Linked DNA regions of Homo sapiens: regions 1 and 3 are each linked to region 2. Evidence: fine-mapped expression QTL. A gene starts in region 2. Each other region holds a variant in brackets. All regions are shown on one strand. Distances are between the middles of the regions.

Region 1 (10,282 bases), 27 kb before region 2:
TTTAAAAAATCTGTTCAACAGGGGTTGTGGAAGAATGTGCCGTTTGGGATAGAGCCTAGGGAGGAAAACAAATGTTGTTCTCCTGAAGAGCAAGGAAGGGCTAATGCAGACAGAAGATGATGCTAATAAAATATCATTAAGGCTTATTTCGTTACAGCTATTATGAAACCAGATTTTTTTTCTTTTAACTTTTTTGAGATGGAGTCTCACTCTGTTGCCCAGCGGGGAGTACAGTAGCGCTGTCTCAGCTCACTACAGCCTCTGTCTCCCAGGTTCAAGTGATTTTCCTGCCTCAGCCTCCCGAGTAGCTGGGACTACAGGTGCACACCACCACACCCGGCTAATTTTTGTATTTTTAGTACAGACAGGGTTTCACCATGTTGGCCAGGCTGGTCTCGAACTCCTGACCTCAAGTGATCCACCTGCCTCAGCCTCCCACAGTACTGGGATTATAGATGTGAGCCAACGTGCCTGGCCGAAACTGGTTTATTGAATGAACTAAGTCCAGAAAGCGAGGGCTTCATTTTTCTCTAACCATTGCCTTACAACAAAGTTCTGTTGGATCTCCTCCCATCATCACTCCTGAATCTTGGGCAGATACCATAAATTTTAGTGACAAATCTCACTTTAGTCATTGCACCTCTATTTAAGGGATTAAAATGTCCAGGCCAGTCCAATTTAACAGCAATCTCACACCTCATTCAAAAATCTGCTTGGCCTTCCTTGCAGTGAAATGACGAAGGCATATAGTCAGTTTCTTTACTCTTCCTCCATTGTCTCTGTCTTCTCTATATTCTAGATGTCCCTATGCCATTGCAAGGGAAGAGGGTATTACACAAAGAGGAGCAGATCTTCCTGTAGTTAACTATTGAATAAGGCAGACAGGCCAGCATGATCCTGCCAGCTGCTATGGCAGAGTCCAAATGCTGGCTTTTTCATAGGGCACATCTGTGAGTTATTGGAGGGCCTTGAGTGTACCCCACATTGCACAGTTCCATGATGCAGGGCCACATTATCTGGCTGACCTCTTGCAGCAACCTCCACCCCAAACCCCTCTTCTGCCTAACCCCGTGTCCTCTTACTGCTATAGTTTCTTTGCACAACAGGCTACCCTGTTGGCTGATATCCCGTCATGACAATGCAAGCCCAGCTACTCTTCCATAGTCAAAGCCATGTGAAGAAATTCACATCCTTTTACCATGTCAATAATGGGAGGGCAGGTTGCTATCAGTGCTTCTCTTCTCTCATCCTGCCATTTTGGGTGCTCAAGCCAACCTTTCACCTCCTGAATTCCCCAGGGGGGAAGAACTCATCTATTCATTCAACAAATATTCATCAAGCACTTGTATTTGCCAAACACTATTTACCAGTCTCTGTGTTCCCAGTGCCCACCCTCGGACTCCAGCAAACACTCATCAAGCTCTTCCAAGAATTCTCAAGCCACACCACATCTGCTGCACTGAACCTGTGTGCTCCTGTTACTCTGCAAGCTTTCAGTCTTGGAGTGGGATGCCAGGCTACCTTCTACCATGCTGAGTCCCTCACACTTGTCTGCAAGAAATTCAAAGCAATCTCCCTATGGCCTAGAACCTCCGCTTAATGACTCTTTAATCACGCTTTTGACTCTAGTCTTCTAGAGATGGATAATACGGACTGGGAGTCATTGGTCTCTTTCTGCTCTTTTGATAAGTCCAGACTGGCTGTGTCTAGTATCATGTTGGTGCAGTTACTGTCTTTCGTCAGCTTTGAGCCTTTAGCCAGAATTCTAAGACAACCAGAAAAGTCCCATTCAATATCCAGCTGCAAATAAATTTGGCCGAGTTTTCTTGGAAAGCAGGTGGATCCACGTCTTTCACCTCAACAGCTTATGATTAAGTCCATATATCCCTTTACATACATACACTATCAAGTCATGAGTCCTCATTGGTTAATTACATATTTGTGTAGCAGGATAAAAAATTAAATAAGCTATTACACATATGTGAAACAAAAGACTTTTTTATATGCCGTAGCTGATCTAATTTTTTCCCCAAGCCCCAGACTTGAAGAGAATGATGACACTGACCCAAAGACCAATATGATTCACAGGGCACTCCGAGGACTGGTGCATATGATGCTGAAGTTGACTGTTCCCTTGCTGCCATGAAGCCATATAAACTCTTGCTCACAACAGAATCCATTTGGGAAAGCAGAGTGGAGAGGAGCTGAAAAACTGAGCATTTACTCAAAAGAGACTGTTTCAATTTGAAACATAATGATTAAACCAGAAGAGACTGGGCTGTCTCTAACTGGCAGGCTAACCTCACCGCCTAGCTCAGTTCCCCAGATGAAACATTGTTTTTGTTAAGTCTTTCCTGAAGGCATGAGGATAATGGAGGCACCTCCAGACAGTTACTTACGACTGTACTATTCACCATCATCCAAGTAAATAATGGTTTCTTAAGTTGAATTTCCTAAATTTTTTTAAGATTTCACATCATTGTTTTCAGTGACTAGTGTTAATTTCATATTAAAAGCGGCTCTAATGTTAGCCCAAAAGAGCCCACGTTTGCTTTTCTCCTTGGGCCACTGCAAATAAGTCCGCTGC[G/A]TCATGAGAGCCTTCAGCTTGTGGTACTTGTTGGGAATGCTGTTCTGTGGAATGGGTTCCAGTAAGATGAGGATTAAGTTATTAGATCCTTCATGAAAGAGATTGTGATGGGCAAAATAGAGTTCGTAATGGCACCACTCACTCTGGACAAAGTTGGGAGACAAAACAAAGATGGACTTGTAACTCTTCTCAATGCAGTTGATGATATTTTCCACAATGCTCTTGCCAGGGACAAAGTTTCTCTCATGAAGACAAATCTGTATATCTTCTTTTTCTAGGTAAGGTACCAATTCACTTTTCACCCAGGCAGAATCATGTTCACTATATGAAATAAAAGCATGAAACTGGAGGTTTCTTTGGAGTTCTTCTAAGGGTATGTTCCTGGCCCTGCGCCGAGTCTGGGTCCACTGGCACACCATCCTGAGATACCAGGGCAGATCCAAGTAGATGCAGAGGGAGGTCACAGTCACAGCCAACACCAGCATGGTGGCACCGATGGTGACGATCAGCAGAGTTATGTTGCAGGATAATTCAGACATGTGAAAGTCCTTTAGTGGGCTTCCTCTATAACTTTCTGGGTAGTCACACTTATAAGAATCAGGCCAGCCCTCTAACACTTCACTTGATACTTGGTCTATATTTTTGACAAATTCTCTTAGCTCACAGGTACATTGGAATGGATTGTCCCCTGCTTTTATTGACCTCATCTTCTGGCAGCTCTGGAAGAAATCAGCCGATGGGTGGGAAACTGAATTGTGATCAATGATCAATACAGAAAGGCTGCTAAAGCTGCCACATCCAGGAAGGTCAGTTAAAGAATTGAAAGCAACATTGAGTTCTTGCAAAGCTTCCAGTTTTACGACTTGTTTAGGAACGCTCTTTATTTTATTGCTGTGAAGATCAAGTACCTTGATCCTGGGAGGTAAACATCTGAAAACAGAGTCAGTAAGCATATTTGAAGACAAATTTAACACCACTATACTCTCAACCCAAGTGCAGTTTTCTTTATGTCTACCAGATTCCAAAGAATTCCAGCTAACATCCAGTATTTCCAAAGAAGGCATATCCTTCGTCATGAGACCTACTTTGAAAAGGTCTTTTAATCCATTCTTTTGTAAGATAAGTGTCTCCAATTTAACTAACGTGGAACATTTTTCAAAAATACTATCTGTGAAAACGTTCTGGGTAAAGTTCAAAAACTTGAATGTGCTTGGTGCATGAGGACACAGCATGTGTATAAAAGGTGTATCTGAAATGGTTAACATCATAATGTTCATCTCAGAAAACACGGTGTACAAAGCTGTCTGTGAAAACAGAAAAACTTGGTTCGTGATATGTTCTATTGTCAATGCTTTCAATGTCGTTTTAGAATAAGTAAAATCTTCTTCACGAATGCTTTCAATTATTGTTAAATTGTAAATATTGAGATATTCCACAGGTTTGGGCCAAAGAAATTGAAAGACTCTGACCAGGCATTTCCAAGTCGTTTCTATGTGGTTGAGGGTAAAATTCAGTAAGGTTGAACCTCTGGTGAGTTCTGATAAAAATTTAATGAAAACTTGACAGTTGTCATCATTCAATTTAATATTAGTCAGTTGTAAGCACCCTAAAGTATTAACTGATATGTTCACTTGGATAGCGAATAAACTAGTTGGGTGAAAAACAAGGTGAAGGGTTTTTGCATTCAGAATTTGTAGACTTTCTGTCTCATTTTCTTTTATATAATAATTTCTTAAATCCAGAAGGATATAACTTAGATGCAAGTGAGCAATTGGCAGCAAATCTAATTTTTGCAGCTTCATAGCACTCAATCCCAAGAAATTCAGTTGTGATAAGTTGCCAAATTCCTTACAGATGGGCAGGGCCTTGAAATCATTGAATGAGAGATCTAAATGCCTGAAACTCACAATAGGATGGCAGGATATCTTTTGCAACTGATTATGAGATAAATCCAAATATTCTAAATCCTGGTTGAACTTGAAAACACTTAAATCAAGTAGCTGGATTCTGTTATGGGAAAGTCTCAAAACTGTCAACTCTGATAGAAAGCTCATGTCAGAGACCTGAAGCTCAGCGATGTAGTTCTGAGACATATCTAAGACTTTGGTTTTCAGCGGTAGGTCTTTTGGAACATGAATAAGACCTCTTTTTGACTTGTCTACTGCAAATTCATTTCCGTCGGAGAACTGGATTCTGGTTCCAACTATTATGATCATAAGGCAAACAAAATGGAAGCTTTTAACAATAGGTTCTTTGTCTTTGGTCATGATGTTGCAGTGGCTATCCTAAAGGGTTGTTCTTCTTCAGAGCATCTTGATATGAGTCCAAATTCTAGAAATATAATATACACTAAGATTAATAAAGATCGGATGGTTACTCTCAAACCTCCACTTACTAACCATAAAATCTAAATGATTTCTTCATTCACTAGTAGAGTCATTTCTGTCCCCATAATTTAATGTAATACTTTTTATAACCAGTTATATAGCTTGCTCATGCCAGAAGGGGCAATATAGGCCTTGTTATCAAAGAATTGTGGTTGTGTGTTTTGACCTGTCTGGTTGCTGCCTGAGGGATTCACACTCAGGGGCTTGCCTTTGTTTTGTACACCTTAGAACTTTCTCAGGGCTGGAACAGCCTTCTGGCTGGTGTTTGCTGTAAACAATTAAAGGCAAACATACTAGCTGCAGCCACCTGAGCAAGGGCTAACAGAGGGGGCAAGCAGCAGACACATCAAAAAGTCTGGGAAATATGCAAAGATATATGGAGAAAGATATGTGGGAGAAAAAAGGCTGAGGAAATCTCTGTATATACCAGGGAGTCCAGAAGTCCACTCACGTGCCCAAGGCTGGACGCATGTTCAGAGGAGACCTGAGAAAATCCTAAACTTCACCTCTGGCTCATCTTTAGCTTCCATGCATGCAGAAAGTGAAGGCTAAAGCAGAGCTGTGAATAGACTGGCTAAGCATTGAGAAAGTGATCCAACACAGCCAACCTGCAAAGATCAGGGGTGTTTTTGTTTTTGCTTTTGCTAGTTTATTTGGTTTTTGTTTTTGCTCCAGATGTTTAAAGAAATCTCAAGTTACTGGCTGACCACTAAGCTAACTGGACAGAAAATGTAATAGCCACACATGACAAAGAATAATCTTTATAAAAATTATTTAGAAAAGTCATTAAACAAGCAACTATAAGCCACAAGAAGCAACAATACACCCTGGGAAAGGGAGGCCCGGCACAGTGGCTTAAGCCTATAGTCCCAGAACTTGGGGAGGGCAAGGCAGGTGGATTGCTTGAGTCCAGGAGTTCAAAGCCAGCCTGCGCAACATAGTGAAACTCCATCTCTACAAAAAATACAAAACTTAGCTGGGCATGGTGGCGTGTGCCTATAGTCCCAGCTACTTGGGAGGCTGAGTGGGAGGATTGTTTGGGGCCGAGGAAGTCGAGGCTCCAATGAGCTGTGATTACACCACTGCACTCCAGCCTGGGTGACAGAATGAGACCCTGTCAAAAAATAAATAAATAAATAAATAAAACACCTCTGGGAAAGGGGGACAGAATTTGATTTCTAGAGTTACCTCATTGTAGTGTTTAAAATGTCTGATTTAAAAAAATAAAAATCAAAACAAAATAATCACTAGCCCCCAGATTTGCCAGTGGACTTGCTCTACGTTTTGCCCTGAAATAACACAAACCTTGCAAAAAGCAAATGGAAAGAGATTGTTATCTTTTTGATTGTGTAACTTGGCATTAAAGGAATCTCTAATTTATTTGTTTAAAAAAATTAGCCATGCAAAGAAACAGAAAGTATTGTTCATTCACAGGAAAAAAAAAAAAAAGAAATTAAAAGAACAAAGCCAGATAACTGACACCACCTAACATTGAGACTTGCTACAAAGCTACAGCAATCAAGGCAGTGTGGTTTTGGTGAAAGAATAGACAAATAGGTCAAATGACCAGAATACAGAGCTTAGAAATAGACCCACAAAAAAATAATCAACTGCTGTTTGACAAACGAGCAAAGGCAACTCAGTGGAGAATGGATAGTCTTTTCAACAAATGGTGCTGGAACAATTAGACCTCCACATGCAAAAAAAAAAAAAGAAGAAGAAGAGAAAGAATTTAGACGCAGACCTTACAGTTTTCACAAAAATCAGCTCAAAATTAACCATAGACCTAAATGTATAATGCAAAACTATAAAATTTCCAGAAGATAACATAGGAGAAAATCTAGGTGACTTTGGATTTGGTGATGACTTTTGAGATACGCATCAAAAACATAATCCAAGAAAGAAAACACTGTTAAGTTGGACTTCATTAAAATTAAAATTTTTGCTTTGCAAAAGACACTGCAAGAGAGTGAAAAAGACAAACCACAGACTCAGAGAAGATATTTGCAAAACCCATATATGATAGGGACTTGTATCCAAACTATGCAAAGAACTCTTAAGCTCCACAATAAGAAAACAAACAACCTAGTTTTTAAATGGGCACAAAAATCTAAACAGACACCTCACCAAAGAAGATATGTAAAGAGCAAATACACATATACATAGCTATTTGACATCATATTTCATCATGGTTTTGCAGATTAATACAGCAATGAAATTACATTACACTTATGAGAATGGGTAAAATCCAAAAACAACATCAAATGTTGGTGAGGATGTGGAGCAACAAGAACTCTCTTTCACTGTTTGTGGGAATGCAAAATGGTGCAGCCACTATGGAATGCAGTTTCTTATAAAACTAAGCATAGTCTTATCACACAATCCAGCAAATCACATTCCTGGGTATTTAACCAAAAGAACTGAAAATTTATGTCCACATAAAAGCCTCCATGTGGATGTTTATAGAAGCTTTATTCATAACTGTCAAACATTGGAAGCAACAAGATATCCCTCAATAGATAAAAATATTAACAAACTGGTACATTCACACAATAAAATACTATTGAACAATTAAAAAATGAGCCGGAGAAGCATTAAAATGGCTGAATAGAGGCACCTAGCCCTCACCCCCTCTGCAAAGAAGGACCAAAACAGTGAGCAGATAATCACACATTGAATGAGCATCTAAGAGAGAACACTGGAATTCAGCGGAGAAGTGACAGTGCACCTCTGAGGCATGGGAGAAGAGGGAAGTGAAGCAGCCAGCCCAGCTGGGACTAGCTCAGAACCAGGAGGAACTTCCCATTCCAGGGAAAGTTTAACTGAGAGATCTTCAGAGGTCAATGTTTCCACTATGGACTCCTGTAATCCTAGCCATGAGCTAGCTCCTTGGCCTTCACATGCCCTGGGGCTGTCTGGAATATATGCAATCACATTGTTCCACAATGGGACTTCACATTGGGTCCCACATACCCCATACCCTGAGACCCAAACAGCTTCAGCATAAGGCTCTTTTAAGAGCCCAGCCCTCACCATACACATCCTGTTCTGGGGCCCAACAACCCTGAATCTCCACACCCCTGAAGCCCCACTGATATTCTCCTACGTCCACCTAGAGGGCTACAGCATTGTAATGCCAGCTAAGATCAGCAGTGCAGCTAGGTCCCCAGCACTCTAGCCCATGCAATGCCCCGCATCCCAGGAAACAGGAAGCACAGTGCACCTAGTGGCTTTCCCTGGGACAAAGGGAGTCAAAGTGTGCATTCCCCAGAGCCTCAGAGTTACCTGCCCAGGGCCACCGCCACTTACAGCAACCCCATCTTCCCTAGCAGCAGGACTACGACACATCTACACATGCCTCCAAGGGGCCTGAGGACAGGTCCACCATGCCCTTTGCTGCTAGTGCCTGCCTGCCACTGCCATGGCAGGGCAGTGCCACACAGGGTGTGGCACATGCATGCCACACGGGGTCCTGAGGACTGGCTTGCCCAGCCTGCTGCTGCCTGTGTCTACCACTTGGGGGCCAGAGGGTTGGTCCACTTTTCCTACTGCTACAGTTAATGCCACACAAATTGTGCAGGGGCCCAAGAACCTGCCCTCCCACTTGGTCCATTACTGCCACTGCAAGCATCCAACTAAATCTCCTGGAGGCTCAAGGACCCATCACCACGAGTGCCCACATATTTCACACAGGGGCCTGAGAACCGGCAAGCCTAGGCCACTGCTGCCACCACTGTTGCCTGAGAACAGGCCTGCCTGGTGTCCCCATCCCCAGCAAAGCCTTGCCATAGTGTCTGCTGACAACTGTAACCTAAGCCACTGAGGAACCCAAATGCCACTGACACTGATGACAGGTGAAGAAATCATACAGAAACTACACTGCTGTGCCCACTCAGAATCAAAGCCAAAGCACCCTATACTCAACTAACACTATAAAAACACCTAGAGGCAAAAGTCTTTCCCTATCAAAGCCAATCCATAAAATTGGAAGCAGCAGCTATTACATCAGATCCATAGATATCAACATAAGGACACAAGAAATACAAAAGTGCAAGGAAACATGAAGCCTCCAAAGGAACACAATAATTCTCTAATAACAGATCTCAACAAAAAGAAAATCTATAAAATGCCTGAAAAGTAATTCAAAATAATGATACTAAAGAAACTCAGTGAGTTACAAGAGAGCATAGATAAATAATAAAAGAAATCAGAAAAATAATTTATGATCTGAGTCAGAAATTCAACAAAGAAATAGATATTAAAAATAGAACAAAACAGAAATTTTGGAACTACAGAGGTCAATAAATGAAGTAAAAAAATATAATCAAGAGCTTGTACAAACAATAGACTAGGCCAGGTGCAGTGGCTCACAACTGTAATCCCAGCACTTTGGGAGGCTGAGGTGGGTGGATCTCCTGAGGTCAGGAGTTCGAGACCAGCCTGGCCAAAATGGTGAAACCATATCTGTACTAAAAAAAAAAAAAAATTACAAAAATTAGTTGGGCGTGGTGGCAGGCACCTGTAATCCCAGCTACTTGCGAGGCTGAGGCATGAGAATTGCTTGAACCCAGGAGGCAGAGGTTGCAGCGAGCTGAGATTGCACCACTATGCTCCAGCCTGGGTGACAAGAGCAAAACTCCAGCTCAAAAAAAAAATATATATATAAAATTAAAAATTAAAAAACAGTAGACTAGATTGAGCAAAATAAAGAATTTCTGAACTGGAAGACAGGTCTTTTGAAATAACCCAGTGAGGCGAAAAAAAAAAAAAAGGAATAAAAAAGAATAAAGAAAGCCTATGGAACACCATTAAGCAAACAAAATTCACATTTTGGGAGTTCCAGAAGCAGAAGAGATGAGCAAAGGGATAGAAAACATGTTTAATGAAATAATAGCTAAAAACTTTCCAGGTCTTACAAGAGGTATAGACATCCAGATACAAGAAGCTTAAAAATTCCCAAGTAGATTTAATTCAAAAATGTTCTCTCTGAGGAAGATCACAGTCAAACTCTCAAAAGTTGAAGACTAAGACAGAATCCTAAAAACAGCAAGAAATAAAAAAAGTCAAGTCATATAGAAGAGACTCCCCATCAGACTAACAGATTTTTCAGCAGAAACTATAGGCCAGGAGAGAATGGGATAATATACTCAAAGTGCTGAAAGAAGAAACTGTCAACCAAGAAGACTATACCCATCAAAGCTGTCCTTCCATAATGAAGAAGAAATATTCTTTCCCAGACAAGCGACAACTGAGGGAATTCATCACCACTAGACGAGCCCTACAAGAAATGCTTAAGAGAGTAGAACGT
Region 2 (10,551 bases):
AAATTAGGTATTGATGGGACGTATCTCAAAATAATAAGAGCTATTTATGACAAACCCACAGCCAATAGCATACTGAATGGGCAAAAACTGGAAGCATTCCCTTTGAAAACTGGCACATGACAGAGATGCCCCCTCTCACCACTCCTATTCATATTCAACATAGTGTTGGAAGTTCTGGCCAGGGCAATCAGGCAAAAGAAAGAAATAAAGGGTATTCAATTAGGAAAAGAGGAAGTCAAATTGTCCCTCTTTGCAGATGACATGATAGTATATTTAGAAAACCCCATCGTCTCAGCCCAAAATCTCCTTAAGCTGATAAGCAACTTCAGCAAAGTCTCAGGATACAAAATCAATGTACAAAAATCACAAGCATTCTTATACATCAATAACAGACAAACAGAGAGCCAAATCATGAGTGGACTCCCATTCACAATTGCTTCAAAGAGAATAAAATACCTAGGAATCCAACTTACAAGGGATGTGAAGGACCTCTTCAAGGAGAACTACAAACCACTGCTCAATGAAATAAAAGAGGACACAAACAAACATTCCATGCTCATGGATAGGAAGAATCAATATCATGAAAATGGCCATACTGCCCAAAGTAATTTATAGATTCAATGCCATCCCCATCAAGCTACCAATGACTTTCTTCACAGAACTGGAAAAAACTACTTTAAAGTTCATATGGGGTCAAAAAAGAGCCCATATTGCCAAGTCAATCCTAAGCCAAAAGAACAAAGCTGGAGGCATCATGCTACCTAATTTCAAACTATACTACAAGGCTACAGTAACCAAAACAGCATGGTACTGGTACCAAAACAGAGATATAGATCAATGGAACAGAACAGAGCTCTCAGAAGTAATACCACACATCTACAACCATCTGATCTTTGACAAGCCTGACAAAAACAAGAAATAGGGAAAGGATTCCCTATTTAATAAATGGTGCTGGGAAAACTGGCTAGCCATATGGAGAAAGCTGAAACTGGATCCCTTCCTTACACCTTATACAAACATTAATTCAAGATGGATTAAAGACTTAAATGTTAGACTTAAAACCATAAAAACTCTAGAAGAAAACCTAGGCAATACCATTCAGGACATAGGCATGGGCAAGGACTTCAAGTCTAAAACACCAAAAGCAATGGCAACAAAAGACAAAATTGACAAATGGGATCTAATTAAACTAAAGAGCTTCTGCACAGCAAAAGAAACTACCATCAGAATGAATAGGCAACCTACAGAATGGGAGAAAATTTTTGCAATCTACTCATCCAACAAAGGGCTAATATCCAGAATCTACAATGAACTCAAACAAATTTACAAGAAAAAAATAAACAACCCCATCAAAAAGTGGGCGAAGGATATGAACAGACACTTCTCAAAAGAAGACATTTATGCAGCCAAAAGACACATGAAAAAATGCTCATCATCACTGGCCATCAGAGAAATGCAAATCAAAACCACAATGAGATACCGTCTCACACCAGTTAGAATGGCGATCATTAAAAAGTCAGGAAACAACAGGTGCTGGAGAGGACGTGGAGAAATAGGAACACTTTTACACTGTTGGTGGGACTGTAAACTAGTTCAACCATTGTGGAAGACAGTGTGGTGATTCCTCAGGGATCTAGAACTAGAAATACGATTTGACCCAGCTATCCCATTACTGGGTATATACCCAAAGGATTATAAATCATGCTGCTATAAAGATACATGCACACACATGTTTATTGTGGCACTATTCACAATAGCAAAGACTTGGAACCAACCCAAATGTCCATCAATGATAGACTGGATTAAGAAAATGTGGCACATATACACCATGGAATACTATGCAGCCATAAAAAAGGATGAGTTCATGTCCTTTGTAGGGACATGGATGAAGCTGGAAACCATCATTCTCGTAAACTATCGCAAGGACAAAAAACCAAACACCGCATGTTCTCACTCATAGGTGGGAAATGAACAATGAGAACTCTTGGACACAGGAAAGGGAACATAACACACTGGGGCCTGTCGTGGGGTGGGGGGAGGGGGGAGGGAAAGCATTAGGAGATATACGTAATGTAAATGACGAGTTAATGGGTGCAGCACACCAACATGGCACATGTATACATATATAACAAACCTGCATGTTGTGCACATGTACCCTAGAACTTAAAGTATAATAATAAAAAAAAAAGAATGCACACATTGTTCTTTCCGGAAGTTTTAACCACTGTAATAAAGAAAAAAAATGACAGGAAGAAATACTGAAATGAAGAAAGAAAATCATTATTATTTTTAGATTATAAGACTGTCAATGTGGAAAGCCAAAGAGAAGTCATTGAAAAAATGTTAGCACCAATAAAAGACTACAATAAAGTGGCCGTCACAAAATAAATTATTATCATTACTATTTTCTTAAACACTTTCTTTTTAAGAGACAGGGTTTTGTCCCACTGCCCAGGCTGGAGTGCAGTGGCACAATCATAGCTTAAGGTCCTGGGCTCATGCCATCCTCTCACCTCAGCCTCCCACGGAGCTGGGGTTACAGGTACAAGCCACTGCTCCTGGCAAAAATAAATTCTATTTTGAAAACAAATCCCTCAATTATCCAAAAATAGCAGGTTATCAAATAAATTTTAGTATCTCTGTATAATTAAATAGTACTATGTAGCCTTTAAAAATAATAAAAATCGAATTGCATGAAAATATTTTCACTATATGTGACAAAAAGCAGTTTATTTAAAAAGTACCAAAGTAAATATGTACCTATGCAAGTAGAAAAATTAATAAGATACATACCAAGATATGAACAGTAATTATCTTTGCACAGTAAGATTATAATGGAACTTTATTTTCCTCTTAGTTTTTATCTATATTTTTCAAACTTTTAACATTCAAAATTAAGTTTACTGTACTATTTACTGAATAATTTGCCAAAAATCAATTGCCAATAATATGAATAATGTGCAATCTCACAAAAAATAAAACAGCACGTTAAATCAAAAAAGCACATAACATCTAGATGAAACTCATGATCTTGGATTAGATCTCAGTTAAGACAGACTTGCTATAAAACATATTCAGTAACAGAAGGAGGGGCAGATTCTATGATGGACCAGCCATTAGATGCTATTAAGAAATAAATTGTAATTTTTTATAATGTTATTTGGCTATTTTAGGAAAATGTAATTTTTTTAGAGATAGAGAATAAAGCTTTTAGAAATAGGTTTCCAGAATGCCTGTTATTTTTACTATAAGATATTTAAGCATAAAAAGAGGAAGGGGGTCAAAGGAGGACTCTTGTTTCTTAAAAGATTTTTTAAAAGGCAAGATTTTTTTTTCACCTATCAAATAGGGAAAATTAAAAAATATAATATCCAGGTTGGTAGGTGGAAACTAAAATAAGAACCCTCATTTACTACTTAGGCAGGAATGAAAAATTAGTACAAGCTTTCTAAAGGGTAATTTGGTAATTTACATAAATTTCTTAAAAATATACCTTCCTTTATTTTAGCAATTCCACTACAAGGAATTTTCTAAAGAAATAGTCAAAAATAACACACAGAAGATATGACTATAAGGATACTCATGACATAATGAAATATTGAAAAAATCAGAATGTCTAGTGTAGAAAATGATTAAATCAGTTATGTATAATTAAATAATAGCCTCAAATACTGTACTTTGAAAAAATGATAATGTTAAATGAATACAGTAATAGAAAATTATGGCCGGGCGCAGTGGCTCACGCCTCTCATCCCAGCACTTTGGGAGGCCAAGGCGGGTGGATCACGAGGTCAGGAGATCGAGACCATCCTGGCTAACGGTGAAACCCCGTCTCTACTAAAAAAAAATACAAAAAAATTAGCCGGGCGTGGTGGCGGGCGCCTGTAGTCCCAGCTACTCGGGAGGCTGAGGCAGGAGAATGGCGTGAACCCGGGAGGCGGAGCTTGCAGTGAGCCGAGATCGTGCCGCTGCACTCCAGCCTGGGCGACAGAGCAAGACTCCGTCTCAAAAAAAAAAAAAAAAAATTATATATGTAGTAAGACTCTAATTTTGCAAAATATGATTAAAACCTGACATATACGTAAAAGCTAGAGGACAAACAATGTGATGAAATATACCAAATACTAATAATAGTGGTTCTCTGAATCTCTGAATTATAGATGAATTTAATTTTCTTTCTTATACTTTCAGATATCCCTAAAATGTCTCATTTTGAATGTCCTTTATAATCCAAAAAAGTTATCGTAAGGCAATTTAAGAGTTGTCTTTATAGCTGTGTGAAAATATTTTATATTTAAAGAAACGTGCTTGTTTTATTTGGAATATTAAAATATAAAGATGGAGAACTTTCAGATAATAGTAGATAACTGGCATTCACAGATGAGGACCTACCCTACAGGTCCCCGGCAACCAGACCCACGGTGTCTGGGTTCATGGGACTGAAAATCAGTCACCAGGTGGAAAAGCTGGTCAGCTGTCCTTATGGTATCCTGCCACAAAAACGCAATATTCCTCCAGAGGCGTTCATACCCTGAGGCAGTTCCTAGGGAATACACTAAATGAACAAGATAGTAACTTTTCTATTTATTGGGAAAAAAGGAGGGAAAAATGGGAAGATGAGAGTGGAAGATTAGAGAGTTCACAGTTTTTTAAAGAAAGTAAAAATAAACAGGTAAATGCTCTTGATTTTTTAAATGCATCAAATAAAAAGGGTGAGGAAATAGATGAAATAAGCTACATTTCAGAAAAAAAGGGTAGACAAGACCTATGAAAATTAAAACTACAAGGAAGAAGAGAGCAGAAAAAAAATTAAGTGAAATAAGTGGAGGAAAGATCACATAATCAAGTTAACAAATAGGCAAGAAAAACATTGTTTCATTTGTCAAACTGAAGGTGGAAGGACCTGGAGGAAGGCAATTGCTACACTGTGCCAGATTCAAGCTTGTGAAGGGGCTTGGTCCCGGCCACTTCCTCCATTTAATAAATGTTTATTCAGAGTCTATTTTTCTGCCAGTGCCATGCTACGCACTAGGCACCAGGGATATAAATATGAATAGGACTGACATAATTCCTGCTTTCAAAAAGCTTATGAATTAGGGACAGACACAGACCAGCAAACTGTTACAGTGACAAACGACAAGGGAGATCAAACACACGTCTGCTGTAAAAACATATAATAAATAGGTGCCATATCAGTGGTATATAAAAATTACTGTTAAATGTTACTGAAAACAATAAACTAGAGAAAGACGAAAAGAGAAAATTCGCTGGGCCAAATCAGAAGAAATAAATAACATTAGTTTTGTTCCTTAATTATCACCACAAGCGCTAGTTGTTTTCTATCTTTTCAAGACAGCTGTAAAGACGCTGCTCTTCATCCTGCTCGTGAAATTCAAAGGACATTTGCAACATCTACAAAAAAAACCACTTCAAATCATTTTGCAAAAATTTCAAGGAAACATTACCTATTTCCTATATAATGAATGGTTAGCAAACTTGCTTACTTGAAGCACCTGTGCCATAATGTGAAAAAGCCACAGAAGTCTTTCTACTTACCAAGATCTCTTTTTCAGAAGAAGAGAAAATAACTTGTAAATGAACGGAAATACAATTGAAAATGCTTGACAAACACAAGTTCTTAAAGTTGAGTAAAGCGGTACCTTAGAAACAGATTGGTGCCATCTGTTGGCCCACACTGGAATTACTCCTACGTATATTTTTACCTTTCAAAGGTCCGGAGGTGAGTTAGCAGTTTTTTCTGGGCTACAGACAAAACCAGTAATCCAATTTTCTAATTCGTGTGAGGAAGCAACTTACAAACAATTCAATGTGAAGAAAAATATTTTTCTAAGGTAATATTTCTCTGTAAGAGTTTGCAGCCTGGTTATTACATTTGTCACCTGAGTGGAAAGTTATTTTAAACAGCCTGTTTTCTATTATCACCATATTTAACATTTCAAGAATAATTGCAGTTTCCCTTATCAAGCAATTTTGAGCATTATTTTAGCTGGATGAGATAGTTTAAAATAAAATAAGTATAGTTCCACAATTTGGGTTTTTTTTTAAAAATCAACTTCTAAGGAAAGTTTACTGGTTGATACATATTTATGACTACATATTTAGCCATATGTACGAGCAATCATACCCACATTCTGATCAACATTTGGTGTTATTAAATGGTTTAGATTTTAATTTAGGAATAATAAATAACACTGAAATCCTGCAAGACTAATTTAAAAATCAATTTTCTAAAGACCATTTAGAAGAATTTCAGAATGACATCAACAAAGGCTGATTACCAGAAGTCTCTGGTTAAACAGAGACTTCTGGTGGACAGTAAACCCTTTTCCCCAGACTTCTTGCTTAACTGAGTTCTGCAAAGGACAGAAGGCATGAGTGAAACAATCATTCTATAATTTATCTCACTGTCTGGCACAATCTCATCTTTATTAAAAAAAAAACAACAACAAGTTAAGACCTTACAATTTGGCTAATGACAAAGTTGGACATCTCCGTAAGAATCACTTCTGCTTTCAGGAGGAAGAGAAAGGCTGGCTTCTTGTGATTCATCCTTACTCATCAAACATAACAGGAAGTCTCCTCAGGCCTGGGGAGGCTCAGTAAGGAGTGGATGGATCTCTGCTCCACTGGCAAAAGGAGACAGCCAGAAAGCAGCAGGTATCTGTGACCCTGGAAAACCAGATTTGTGAAACAAGCCAAGGGAAAGGGCTGGCTGTGGCTCTGAGGGAATTTCAAGTAACCGTGGACTAAAGTCTTAAGAAAACAGACAACTATCACTGCAGATCTGGGCACATTGACATGTCTCATTAGGAGATTGCATCACAACACCAATGTTCAGAAACAAGGAGACTATTCTTGTCGAGGCTGTCATAACTCAGAAACGTCTGTAAGGGGATGACAAAAACACAAAAATCAAGTAATAGCGAAGATGGCAATGACAGTTAAGCAAACAAAGAAACAGACAGTACTGGGCCGAACCTCCACTTGGCCACTTACTGTGAGGCTTGGGACAAGTCCCTTAACCTCCATTTATTCATCCACAAAATGGGAGTACTTTTAGGAAAGATAATGAATTTAAAGTGGCTGGAATAGTGACTGACACAGAAGAGAAGTCATAATAGTAAGGAGTTTGGTGCAAATCATATAGTTTTTTTGTATGCTGAGGGGTAAAGATTTCAGGATATACTATGAAGTGAAGAAAATCAAGGTGCAGGCTGGGCACGATGTCTCATGCCTGTAATCCCAGCACTTCGGGAGGCCGAGGTGGGTAGATCACCAGAGGTCAGGAGTTCGAGACCGGCTTGGCTAACATGGCGAAACCCTGTCTCTACTAAAAATACAAACATTAGCTGGGTATGGTGGCAGGCAACTGTACTCCCAGCTACTCGGGAGGCTGAAGCAGGAGAATCATTGGAACCCAGGAGGCAGAGGTAGCAGAGAGCTGAGATTGTGCCACTGCACTTCAGCCTGGGCAACAGAGTGAGACTCTGGCTCAAAAGAAAAAAGAAAGAAAGAAAGAGAGAGAGAGAGAGGGAGAGAGAGAGAGAGAGGGAGAGAGAGAGAGAGGGAGAGAGAGAGAGAGAGAGAGGGAGAGAGAGAGAGAGAGGAAGAAAGAAAGAAAGAAAGAAAGAAAGAAAGAAAGAAAGAAAGAAAGAAAGAAAGAGAGAAAGAAAGAAAGAAAAGAAAGAAAGAAAATTAAGGTGCAGAACTGTAAGAAGAGTATGACATCAATTGTATAAAATCTAGCCATTTACACAGGTTATCTTCTTGCCAGGCATTGCTGTGACTACTTTCCAAGTATTAACTCATTAAGGTGCTGTGAGATAAGTACTGTCACGTCATCTCCACTTAGCGCAGCTGGGTAATCGTTCCAGCTTGCACTGCTGGTCAGTGGTGGGGGTGGGATTCGAACCCAGGCAGTTTGGCCCCAGTGCCTATGCACTTAAGCATCATACTATGCTGCCTTAGAAGACACCCTGTGTCCTCATAAGACACACAGAGAAGAGAGATACAGAGAAGCAGAGCATTTGCAAACAGAGGCAGAGACTGGGGTATTGCAGTCACAATGCAAGGGATGTCTGGAGCCACCAGAGGCTGGAGAGAGCATCACCCTATGAACAGCTTGATTTTGAACTTCTAGCCTCCAGAACTCTGAGAGAATGAATTTTTGTTGTTTTAAGCCACACAGTCTGTGGTGATTTGTCATGGTAGCCACAGGAAACTTAATACAAGGGTCTACATACATATGTTGATAGAGGCATATGAATCTTTTTTTCTCAAAAGATACATAAGAAATGTTCACCTTTGAGCAGAAGAACTAAGAGAAATAGATTATTGGCCTTTTTTTTTTTTTTTTTGAGACAGGGTCTCGCTCTGTTGCCCAGGGTGGAGTGCAGTGGCGTGATCACAGCTCACTGCAGCCTTGACTTTCCCCACTCAGGCGATTCTCCCACCTCAGCCTCCCAAGGATCTGAGACCACAGGCATCCACCACCATGCATGGCTAATTTTTATATTTTTTTGCAGAGACAGGGTTTTGCCATGTCGCTCAGGCTGGTCTGGAATTCCTGGGCTCAAACAATCCGCCCACCTCAGCCTCCCAAAGTGCTGGAATTACAGGATTGAGCCACCCCGCCCGGCCTCTTCACCATTTTATGCTTTTTGTCCTATTTGAATTCTTCACTATATATAGATATGTATATATGTCTTAATTTTTAAAAAATAGTGTCACACTGGGTTAAGTATTATAAACATAATCTGAGGCCACCCAATACACTGTCCCAATACAGACACAGGCAAAACATTATTTTGATGACTTTTACTTGTTAAAAAATGTTGTCTTTCTCCAGATAATAAATAAATAAATAAATAAATATTAGTGTCTACCAACAGCTTTAAAGTAAGTTTTGTGACAATTATCAATATCATAAGATACACATACGACAGAGATAAGATTGATAATTTTGGCTGGGCGCAGTGGCTCACACTTGTAATCTCAGCACTTTGGGAGGCTGAGGCAGGCAGATCACCTGAGGTCAGGAGTTCAAAACCAGCCTGGGCAACATGGTGAAACCCTGTCTCTACTAAAAATACAAAAATTAGCTGGATGTGGTGGCTGGCGCCTGTAGTCCCAGCTACTCAGGAGCCTGAGGCACGAGAATCACTTGAACCCAGGAGGCGGAGGTTGCTGTGAGCTGAGATCGTGCCACTGCACTCAAGCCTGGGCAACAGAGCGAGACTCTGTCTCAAAAAAAAAAATGCTAATTTATATATTAAGTATTGATAGTAAACCTAAACTTCTCTGCTGAATTAAAAAAAAAAAAAAAAGACAAGCCGCAGACTGGGAGAAGGTATCTGCAACTTGTATAATCACAAAAGTGTTAATATACAAAATATATAAAGATTTCCTACAAATCAATTTTAAAATGACTAACAACCCCAATGCGGGGAAATGAGCAAAGGAGATCAACAGATGGATAACAGAAAAGGAAACAGAAATAGCTCAAACACATGGAAAGGTATGCATCCTCATTAGAACATGGGAAAATACAAATTAACACAACCAGGAGACACTATTGTACACCCCTAAGGTGGACAAAATTTAAAACATCTAGTAATACAAATGGTGGCCAGAACATGAAGAAACAGGAGCTCACATACATGTCCAGAGATGCTGATGTAAGTGGTCTGGGAGGGGCCGGGCATACGTTTTATTTTGAAAGCTCTTCAGGTGAGTCCATTTCATTGTAACCCCATGAAAATCAGGGGACTGAGACCTACACGCTGGCCTGAGCACAGCGCCCTCTAGTGGTCTATATCTTCTTGGGTGCACCCTTCACACACCAGAGCCTGGGAGGTGGTGCAGGTGTTCTTGACTCTCACTGCTACTTCCAGATCACTTTCCTTCCTCCAAACCCACCCCTTCTCATTGCAGTCATCTAGTGAGCCCCATCACTTCATCAAGTATTCTAGCAGTACTCACTATTTCAATCCGATACCACCCCTTTCATAATTCTAGTGATTTCCATAGCTACATAGAGACTCTTCCATTCACCTGGCCTCTGAGTTCTTGGACATTCTCTCTTCTAATAATCTTGTCCTGCACCCTACCTCAGTCATGCATTCCCTTATTATATCCTAGATATCATTATTAGCAATGGCTGCACCCCCTCCATAATCTCAGTTGCCTGAATCCCACTTTCCTTCTCTCACCTCCAACTCTTCCTCCAGTGCCAACGATTCCCCAGCCCCACTGCACTGGACTGAAAGATCATGCTCCATCCTCTTCATTATTCTTCTGCAGCTACTTACTCCTCTTTCCTCAACCCAGTTTAAATCCAGCTCTCCACTGGACTACACTGAGCTTGAGTGGCTGAATATAGTTGGAGAAAATACACACCCATGCTGACTGGCTTACTTGAAATGTATGACTAGATCCCAGCCTCAAGAGAGCAGCCATCCTCCTACCCTCCTTACTACCCTTCCCTAGCCCCTTCACTCTCCTGTTCTCCTCTTTCACACCTCCTCTTGT
Region 3 (10,551 bases), 56 kb before region 2:
CTACACCTGCCCAGAGCTGGCTGCTGGAGTAAAAATGTAGACTGACAGGATGTTTGATGGGTATGAAAAGCATCAGATATATCCATTCCTTACACTGCCCCATCTGCTCATGCTCTACTTTAATAGTTCCCCAAAGAGACAGATGCTATATATAGAAGCACCGTATATCAACTATATTCTTCCTTCTAATCAAAAGAGCAAAGGCTCTTGTGCATGTTAGTTCATACAACCAGAATCTCAGCGAGATCTCCAGTCATGGAAAACTAGACTCAGAATTTTCATTTGGACTGAGGTGGAACACTTTCTTGGTCTGGGCTCCCTCATAAGCAGCCCCTGAGACAAATATTCAGTGGCAAGTAGTTTATCACAGAGGTGATCCCATGGAATACACATGGAGGAATAAGTAAGTGAGAAAAAAATGGGAAGGAAGCCAGTCGAGAATACTTAATCAAGCCATTTCTACTGTGGACAACCAGAATTTTATCCTACTGGGGAACTCAGGGAGAGTGTAAAGTATACCCCATTTTTTGATTTATCTCAAAAAATGAGTGAGAAAGTTGGGATATTTATCCACCAGCTCTTTCTGACATTGGTTGAGGGCTGTTTCCAAGGACAATTTCCAGCACTTCTGAACTGCCCTTTGTGTGGGCATGATGGTGGGGGGTTGGGGAGGAACCTTCAGGCATAGTGTCTCCAGCTTTATCAACGAGCAGCCATCAATAAGTTGAGTTGAATGCACCATGGATATGAGGAAAGCATCAAAAGCTGTAGAAATCTGCTATACAAACCCAGCTATATTCACAAAAGTCACGGCATTTTCCAATATTGGCCATGATACACTAGAACACACATCACTGAAGAAAAACAGGTGCTTCCCTTGACTTCATGATAAATTCAGAACTCAGTTATAGCAAAGAAACAAGTGGATCCCTTATGTGTCAGAACTGTTTAAATCAAAGTTATATCATTTCATTAATTTTTAATACCACATATAAATGGTGAACTGCGACCCGAAGGTATATATTTTTACCTACATCATACACTCACAATTGTGTTTACATCTATGCTGATGCAAAATAAAGTCATTGTTGGAACTTCCAAAAGCAGCAATATCAACAGGAGGAATATTTTTCACTTGATGTGTAATCTATTTCTTTGCTTGCTCTGTCAGCTTAATATTAATGGCTGCCCTTAAGTTAGCCCAAAAAAGGCCACGTTTGCTCTTTTCCTTGGGCCATTCCAAATAAGTCCTCCTGGCCATGAGACTTTTGAGCTTGTGATAACTGCTAGGAATGGAGTACTGCGGAATGGGTTCCAGCAAGATCAGGATTAAGCTATTAGATCCTTCATGAAAGAGATTGTGATGGGCAAAGTAGAGTTCATAATGGCACCATTCACTCTGGACAAAGTTGGGAGACAAAACAAAGATGGACTTGTAACTCTTCTCAATGCAGGTGATGATATTTTCCACAATGCTCTTGCCAGGAACAAAGTTTCTCTCATGAAGGCAAATCTGCATACCTTCTTTCTCTAGGTTTGGCAATAATTCATTCTTCACCCAGAAAGAATCGTGCCCACTATATGAAATAAATGCATGAAACTGGAGATTTCTTTGGAGTTCTTCTAAGGGTATGTTCCTGGCCCTGCGCCGGGTCTGGGTCCACTGGCACACCATCCTGAGATACCAGGGCAGATCCAAGTAGCTGCAGAGGGAGGTCACAGTCACAGCCAACACCAGCATGGTGGCAACGATGGTGACGATCAGCAGAGTTATGTTGCAGGATAATTCAGACATGTGAAAGTCCTTTAGTAGGGTTCCTCTATAACTTTCCGGGTAGTCACACTTATAAGAATCAGGCCAGCCCTCTAACACTTCACTTGATACTTGGTCTATATTTTTGACAAATTCTCCTAGCTCACAGGTACATTGGAATGGATTGTCCCCTGCTTTTATTGACCTCATCTTCTGGCAGCTCTGGAAGAAATCAGCCGATGGGTGGGAAACTGAATTGTGATCAATGATCAATACAGAAAGGCTGCTAAAGCTGCCACATCCAGGAAGGTCAGTTAAAGAATTGAAAGCAACATTGAGTTCTTGCAAAGCTTCCAGTTTTACGACTTGTTTAGGAATGCTCTTTATTTTATTGCTGTGAAGATCAAGTACCTTGATCCTGGGAGGTAAACATCTGAAAATAGTGTCAGTAAGTATATTTGAAGACATATTTAAACTTAATAAACTTTTAGTCCAAGAACAGTCTCCTTTCTTTTCATCATAGCTTACAGAATTCTGGCTAATATCCAATTGTTGCAGAGACTTCATCTGTGTAGTCATTTCAGCTATTTTTGAAAGTTCTTTTAATTGATTCATTTGTAAAATAAGTGTCTCCAACTCAGTAAGGTGCCCACAATTTTCAAAAACCGTGTCTGTTAAGAGATTATTGGAAAAATCCAAATGCAGGAACGGGCTAATTTTGGATGGGCAAAGCATGTGGACCATGCGTGTACCAGACACTGTGAAATTTTTGATGTTCATATTCGAAAAGATTTCATAGATATAACTTTGCGGAAAACCGAACACATCGCTGACAACTTGGTGTATAGACAAGGCCTTCAAGGAAGTGCCAGAATAATCAAAATCTCTGAAGTCCAGCTGACCCTGTAGCTTCACGTTTGAAATTGAGAAATACCATACAGTTGTATGCCAAACCAGCTGGAGGATCCTAATGAAAGAATTCCAAGTTGTTTCAATGTTGTTTAAGGTAAGATTTGATAACTTTGGATTTGTTTGAAGTTTCGCCAGAATACTTAGGAAGTAAGAACATTTGTTATCTTCTAGCACACATTTGATATTAGATAGTTCCAGATTTGCTACAGTCTTGACTGACACATCCAAAATAAAATGGAATTCTTTGTTTGTGGGGAACACAATGTGCAGACTCTCAGTGTTAAAGTCTTGAAGGCCCTCAGGGTCTTCTTTTTCCCCATAAGTCTCTCCTAAGACCAGCAAGACCTTGCTGATATTCAAATGAGCAATTGGCAGCACACTAGATTTTTCTAAGTGTGTGGTGCTCAACCCCAGAAATTTTAGTTGAGACATATTGCCAAACTCTTTGCATATAGGCAGGGCATCAAATGCATTAAATGACAGGTCCAAGTGCTTGAGGTTCACAGTAGGGTGGCAAGAAATCTTCACCAACTTGTTGTGGGACAAATCCAAGTATTCCAATTCCTGGTTGAATTTGAAAACACTGATATCAAGATACTGGATTCTATTATGAGAAATTATCAAAATCCTCAGTTTTGACAGTGATAAGATGTCAGAAGTCCAAAGCTCAGATATATAATTTTGCGATATATTTAAGATTGTTGTTTTCTGGGATAGGTCTTTAGGAACGTGGATGAGACCGTTTTTTGACCTATCAACTAAAAATTCACTTTCTTCAGATAATTGTATTCTGATCTGAAGTATTAACATGAAGATAATGGCAAAATGGAAGATGCTAGTCATTTTGGAACACTAGACATTCCTAAAGGTAGAAGCTGTTCTTCAGATCATCTTGATACAGATACAGATTCTAGAAAAAAAATAATGAAATGATGAAATACATTACATACATTTTTAAAATACACGAAATTAGTCATGGCTGACATTAAACTTTTTTTTGTTACAGACTTATAAAGTGGAGGCTACATTCTTTTGGGTTACATGGCCTAAAACTAGAGAAGTATATATATTGGTAAATAATGATGCCAGCTCTAATCAAATAAGTTTTAATATGGATGGTGTAATAGGTTGAATGGTGGCTCACCAAAAGATATGTCTACATCTTAACCATGTCCTAATCCCCAGAAACCATGAATGTTACCTTCCTTAGAAAAGGGGTCTTTGCAGAGATAATAAAGTTAAGGATCTTGAGATGAGGAGATCATCCCAAATTATCCAGGTGGTCCATAAATCCAATGACAAGTGCTTTTTTAAGAGAAAGGCAGAGGGATATTTGACAAAGAGACAAGAGAAGAGGCAATTGAGACACAGAGGAGAAGGCCTTGTGACAGTGGAGGCAGAGACTGGAGTGCAGCAGCTACAAGGCAAGGAACATCAACAGGCGCCAGAAGCTAGAGGAGGCTCTGGAGTGATGGTGGCCCTGCTGACACCTTGAGTTTCGACTTCTGCTCTCCAGAACGTTGAGGGCAAAGCCACCACGTTTATGATCATCTGTTACAGCAGCCTCAGGAAACTAATACAGGTGGGTTCATAGAAAGTTTTCTGGCCCCAAGCTTCCCAAAATTATTTAGAACTCCAGCTAAGACTCAACTGGTGTACTTTCACTCTTTGACGTACATCTCCCCATGACTTTCTCAAGAGGTGTTCCTAATGGTGGTATTGGGACTGCTCTTCTATTACCCTTTATGACCTATACACGGTTTGGGTCTAACTTTGGTCTTACTCAAAAGGTAATTAGATCCTGATAAAAGGCCTCTCAGAAGATCCATTTATTCATCCATTTATTTATTCAACCAGTATTTATTGATCACCTACTGGCCATGTTTTAAGAACTGGAGATAGAGCAGTGAACAAGATAAAGTCCGAATTCTCAAGGAGTTTTTATCTAGTGGGGAGACAGAAAATAAATGAATGACTAAACTCAAGTTCCTGTAGTGATAAGTTCTGTAGAGAAAAATAAAGCAGGGTAAATTGTAGGTATGAGACAGTGCTTGGGGGTGGCTATTTTTGAGTGATTAGTTAGAGAAGGCCTTTTTGAGATGATGACACTAGAGTAGAAATCAAAATGAAGTGAATGAGTAACCTATGGGAAGATCTGGGTAACCTACAGCATTTCTGGCAAAAGAAAAGGCAAGTATAAAGGACCTGAGATGGAATTGAGCTTGGCTTGTCTGAGAAGGAACGGGAAGGTCAATGTTAGTAAGGAGTTAGGGAAGATGAGAGGAGTTAGGGCCAAGATCACTCAGGCTTTGTTGATCATTGCAAGGAGTTGGGATTCTATTCCAAAAATGATGAGAGGGTGGAGAACACTGGGAGGTTTTGAGAAAGGGAGTTGTTTCCTCCTCTCTCTTATTCAGAATACTTTTTTCATTCATTCATCAAATATGTATTTATTCTCCATGCAGTGGTAGGCACTGTTCTAGGTTATGCCTATTGTACCAGTATTCAAACTGCTCTAGCTAAGACACCATTTTGTGGTCAGCATTCCAGTGGCGTATGAGAACAGAGGGAGCTGTGTTGGGATGAACTCTAGAGTGTGCAGTCCTCACCTCCAGAGACCCTTTCAGCCGTGATTACACAGCTACCCAGTTCTCACAAGGAACTTATTCAAAATCCCCTAGAACCATTAGACAAGCAGGGCATTAGTATCAGCAAAGCACCAAATTCCTCTTCACATATCCCCTCCCATATCTCAATGAGCACAGAGAACCTAAATAATTTAGCTGCTACAAACAACCCTCGGTTACAAAAGTTCCCCAATTTAGATGTGCAAACTTATCTGGGTTTTGGAGCCTTCCTTGGACTTACCCTTTTGTAGGGGTGCCCAATATGCCTTTGTTATCCTGATTTCTTCTAACGAGGAAGAGGGCCTGGTACCCCTATTAGTGTTCATGAAGACCCTGAGCAAGGAAGATGATGCAGACATTAATGTTCATGTTAAAAGTCAAGGTGGTGTTTTTATGACATTAACTGTATTTGGCTGAAAGACCCGGAAATTTCCCAATTCTTCCTCTCCAGCTTCCTTAAAGAGCTACTCACACAAGGAGCAATATTTCAATGGATGTTATAGCTTGAATGTTTGTGCCCTGTGAAATTCTTATGTTGAAATCCTAACCCCCAAGGTGATGGTATTAGCAGGAGAAAATTGTGAAGTAATTAGGTCATAAGAATAGAGCCTTTATGAGTCAGATTAGTACCTTTATAAAAAAGACCCCAGAGAGCCTCAGGCTGTCATTCTGCCATATGAAAATACAAGAAGGAGGCATCCGCAAACCAGAAGAGGGCCTTCGCCAGAACCCAACACTACCACCCTGATCTTAGACTTCTACCTTCCAGAACTGTGAAAAGTAAGTGTCTGTTGTTTATAAGTCACCCATTCTGGTACTTTGTTACAGCAATTTAAACAGACTAAAATAATGGGAATAAAAATAATACCCTGGGGCAGTGCCAAGCTAGGTCGAAGCAAAAGTGGCCTGGTCTTAAGGCCTAAGTGGGGTTCCCTGCTTATTCCTATGCCTGAATCCAGATCAAGGCTCTTTCCACCTCCTAGCCAACTCCAGAGTTCATGGAAGCAGTGATCAGCAC[A/C]GTCAGGCGTGGTATTCAAAAGTGATCAGAGGCACACAGGACCCCGTGCATGAGTGCGAGAGCTTGGCTCGCAGAACCTACCACACGCAAGATGAAAGTTGTCCTTTTTCCCTTAACAACAGCTATCATCACAAAAATATATAAATTTATATAACTGCCTGCCCCCAAGTGTTAGAGTAGGTACTTAGGCAGACATGAGCAGGACAGGAGAGGGGCCCCCCAACCAGGAATATCAGGTGACCATCAGGTGATGATCAGGCAGTTGTTAAACAGTCTCTCTAAGCCGGGGGCCATGGCTCACGCCTGTAATTCCAGCACTTCGGGAGGCTGAGATAGGTGGATCACTTGAGGTCGGGAGTTTGAGACTAGTCTGGCCAGCATGGTGAAACCCTGTCTCTACTAAAAATACAAAAATTAGCCGGGCGTGATGGCAGGTGCCTGTAATCCCAGCTACTGGGGAAGCTGAGGCAGGAGAATTGCTTGAACCCAGGAGGCAGAGGTTGCAGTGAGCCAAGATCATGCCATTGCACTCCAGCCTGGGCAACAGGGCTAGACTCTGTCTCAAAAACAAACAAACAAAAACAAAAAAACAGTCTCTCTAGAATAATAATTGTTTGCAGCCAGCATCAGGGAAAGTCAGTCTCCTAATAGATAGAAAACACACCTGAAGCTGGTGGTTAGCAGACTCCTGACAAACTCTCAGGAGCTGGGCAAGCAGGCTTGAGCATGCATACCAAGAGGCAAAATGGCGGACTTCAACGGGTATGTGACCTTCCTCTAGGAAGACTTGTCTGGCAAGGGAAAAATGTCTCCAATGAGCATGTACACAACTTCAGTAAACACAGTGTGTGTGCAGCCCATCCCAAGGGCTGGCAGGCCACTGCACATGCAGACAGCCCACCCCAAGGGAAGAATCAGGGGAGAAGAGACGCAAGACTCCAGAAGCCTGCCAACAAATAAGCCCCAAGTAATAGGTTAAACTGGGCACTTGGATCTCTCAAGTTGCCCACTTGGCCCTCCTCCAAGTGTACTTTATTTCCTTTCGTTCCTGATCTAAAACTTCTTAATAAACTCTCTGTAAGGAATATGGCTGTGCTTTGGTCAAGGATAGGCCAAGGTAAACATCCAGAGTGACTCAGCGAGTTTAGAGCGCAGGCGTATAACTCACTTTTTATCATAGCCATGTAGACATAACATAGAGAAGCTTACCATAGCCATAACATAGGGAAGGTTCATCCCTTGGCTCTAAGCCACTATTGTCCGTAAATGGTATAATTGCCCTGCTGACGCTGTACAGGTGCATTGGCAGCCAGAGAAAGAGAGAGAGAGAGAGCCAAAGCTGTCCATCTTTGCAGATGGACTGAGGGGAGCCAGGACACAGCTCGGCTTGCTTGTACCCAGAGAGAGAAAGAGTTAAGCTGCTGACCCTGAGGGCAAGGGAGAGCCGGACGCACAGTTGTGTGTGGAAGCTGCCGAACTAAGCAGCCAGGACAAGGCGGACAGTCTGAGAGAACTACTGTAAGTAAGCTGCTAATGAGAGCTGTTGCTGAATAAAATCACCTTTCACCTGCCTACGGCCCCCTGAGTGTTCTTTCAGCTATCTGCTCATCCACCCCCTCCCCTCAGACCTCAGTATGGGCTGGAACCTGGCCCTGGGCGTGACACTCTCTCTCTTACTCTAAAACTTGCCTCGGTCTCTCACTCTGCCTTATGCCCCTCACACAAATTCTTTCCACTGAGGAGGCAAGAATTAAGTTTCTACGACCCATATGGATTCACCACTGCTAACGCAAGCATTTAATGAAAGCATAGCTTCAGTTTTATGTCGAGCTAAATTAATTGACTCAAATATCTTCTATTTGCCTAACCTCCATCTTGCCCTTTCATTTAAAGTCATTAATTTTAAGTACTCAGTTTATGAAACCATTCTTATTTCTATAATTAAGAAATCAAAATGTTATACACAGGAATAACTGATTTTTAATACTTCCAGGATCTTTGAATTTTATATACCAAACTTGCTAAATCCATGAAAATCAATGTCTCAGTTTCCTAGACCAAAGAATTTTTTGATCAACGTCTTAATGACCATGACTGAGCCTCATCTATTTTAGAACCTTTAAACTCTTTTACTATCCAAAAAATAAGCTGAGCAGAAAAGGATGCTTTAATTTGAAAGTGTAAAATGCCTCTAGGTGAGCTTCTGTGAATTTTCATTATTATGATAGGTTTAGCCTCACATTATATGATACAATGAATCAATACATTTAATTTGTCTTCTTTTGGAGACTTTGGAGGCATCAAATCAAGGCTTTGACTGGTCTTAATGGACAATACCCATACAATCTATCTGGCCCATTAAGTTTAGTCCTGTAAATATTTACTAAGGGCCTTCTCTGCACAAGACCAAATAGCTATTAACCAAAGGTTAAAAGAATCTGAGACAGTTCAAGAACTGTTCTGCTTTGCTTTCTATGCGGTTTTGTGAACTCTTGCTTTGTTATAAAACAAATTCACTTTCAAGTCTTTTGACCAAATTGGATGTAGCCTGGGAAACATTTTCAAAACCTGCAATTCTACCTCACGTCTAGCTCCCCAGAACAGTGTTAGTGGCCTGAGAAACAGAAGGACTAGCTAGTGGGAAGGCCCCAGAGAGAAAAACTGAAACAAACCTGGCCACAAAAACAGAAGAGCTGAACAGCAGCATTGCCTCCGGGAGTAACTGACTTATATCTCATTTTCTTTAACACTGAGAAGAGAATACAAATGGCGGGATTAGGTGAAGAGAAATGCTGTCAAAATCAACAACTAGCAGCTGCTCTGGAAGAAAACCAGAAGACGTGTGTGACCCAAATATTCATTTCCCAACTCAAAAATATTTCCTATAAGCAAATCACACACGAGGTGTTATTCCCAGAGGAGTGTGGGGACTTTCTCTGATTTAGGACTCAGAACTGATACACAAATGCCAGTACAAACTACACAGTAACTATATACATATCAGAAATATAACCCACTTAGAAAAACACCCAGGACTTACACAGATTTTTGAGACTTCTGTACTTAATAACTAGCTATACAATTATTTTCTTTTACAAAAGAAAAGAATGTGTTGCTTACCAAGACAACCTGCTTGTCTGTTCCATTTGGCAGTCTGTAAGAAATTCAAGCACTTCCTTGAATTTATTTCACTGTTAACCACATTTGGTGTTGAAAACAAAACAAAACAAAAAGGCTGTTTTATGCCACCTACCGAATTCCACTGGAATTACATTACATAGTTAAGAATAAACTTATTTTCTCTTATTCATATGTAGCATAGTCTGTGGGTTACCTGATAGGCCTGTATTAAAATAGAATCACGTTTCTATGGTTCCAAATTTCACTACAGTCAGTTTACTATTGTCTACACTGATGAAGTAAATGAGGTAATGTTAATAATCCACAGATCATAATTGGCTGAATTCAAAATGCTTACCGTGGTGGCTATGCTTGGCAGAAGTGTGCGTCTGGGTGTGTTTCGGCTGCTTTGTTTTTCCTCTTGCCTTTTCATCCATCCACTATTAAAAGTGGAAAGAGGGAGGGGTCGAGATTAAAGTTTTGCTGAAGCACACTCGTAAAGAGGGAAGATCATTCATGTGCTGGTTACAGGATGGATGTTAATCACGTCTTTTTTGACAAGTTGATTTTCAGAGAAAATTTGGTGCTGAATTTTTTTCCACTGATCTTTTCAAGCTTTCTTCAAAACATATTTTTGTAAACCCTAAGTGAAAAATATGCTAAGAAGAAAAGAGATTCTTAGCGTGTTTTTCACATAGGGTTTATAAAAATCCTGGGGTTTGTTGACAGCATGTTCAAGGAAGACATTCTGATAGCTCTACTCTTGCCTTTTCCAGTAATGACAACAACAAAATAACAACACAATAAATGGGCAAATAAAGCTATGGGATTCCAGCTGACTGCCTCTGAAGTTGATCTCAGCCTGCATGGTGTCCAGTCAAAACCGGATGTGGGGATGACAAAACTGCCTCCCTTCCTTCCCTCCACGGTTCTCTCCCGTAATCAGCTTTTCTACCACACAGCGAGCAAGGCCAACTTCCCTAAACTAAGAATGCTGAGATTCTTTTCGACTTATAATGTTCTGACTGTCTCTCTCTGTTTCCCCTTACCTCAGAATTTGTTTAATAGAGGAAATATGTTATGTCTACAGATATTTTCTGAAACTGAAAGAATGAAACCAC

What was found. PIP is the estimated chance that this variant, and not a neighbour inherited with it, causes the effect.
Region 1: its variant is fine-mapped to the expression of TLR6 in whole blood (INTERVAL, PIP 0.98).
Region 3: its variant is fine-mapped to the expression of TLR6 in whole blood (INTERVAL, PIP above 0.99).

Annotation. Positions count from the first base shown.
Region 1 is chr4:38,824,620-38,834,901 of GRCh38, forward strand. It overlaps TLR6 (toll like receptor 6), which reads right to left. Exons shown (of 2, transcript NM_006068.5): 2 at 1-4,918. The coding sequence starts at 4,854. The coding sequence ends at 2,464. Among named protein-coding and RNA genes, the nearest start is that of TLR1, 25 kb to the left of the region's middle. RefSeq lists an enhancer at 6,848-7,017. The variant G/A (reference allele first, on the strand shown) is at 2,588.
Region 2 is chr4:38,851,205-38,861,755 of GRCh38, forward strand. It overlaps TLR6 (toll like receptor 6), which reads right to left and starts at 5,613. Exons shown (of 2, transcript NM_006068.5): 1 at 5,557-5,613. RefSeq lists an enhancer at 6,062-7,261.
Region 3 is chr4:38,795,324-38,805,874 of GRCh38, forward strand. It overlaps TLR1 (toll like receptor 1), which reads right to left and starts at 9,468. Exons shown (of 4, transcript NM_003263.4): 1 at 9,431-9,468; 2 at 8,983-9,059; 3 at 5,534-5,625; 4 at 932-3,575. The coding sequence starts at 3,508. The coding sequence ends at 1,148. RefSeq lists enhancers at 7,305-7,599, 8,668-8,717, 8,954-9,123, 8,990-9,159, 9,067-9,236 and 2 more. The variant A/C (reference allele first, on the strand shown) is at 6,311.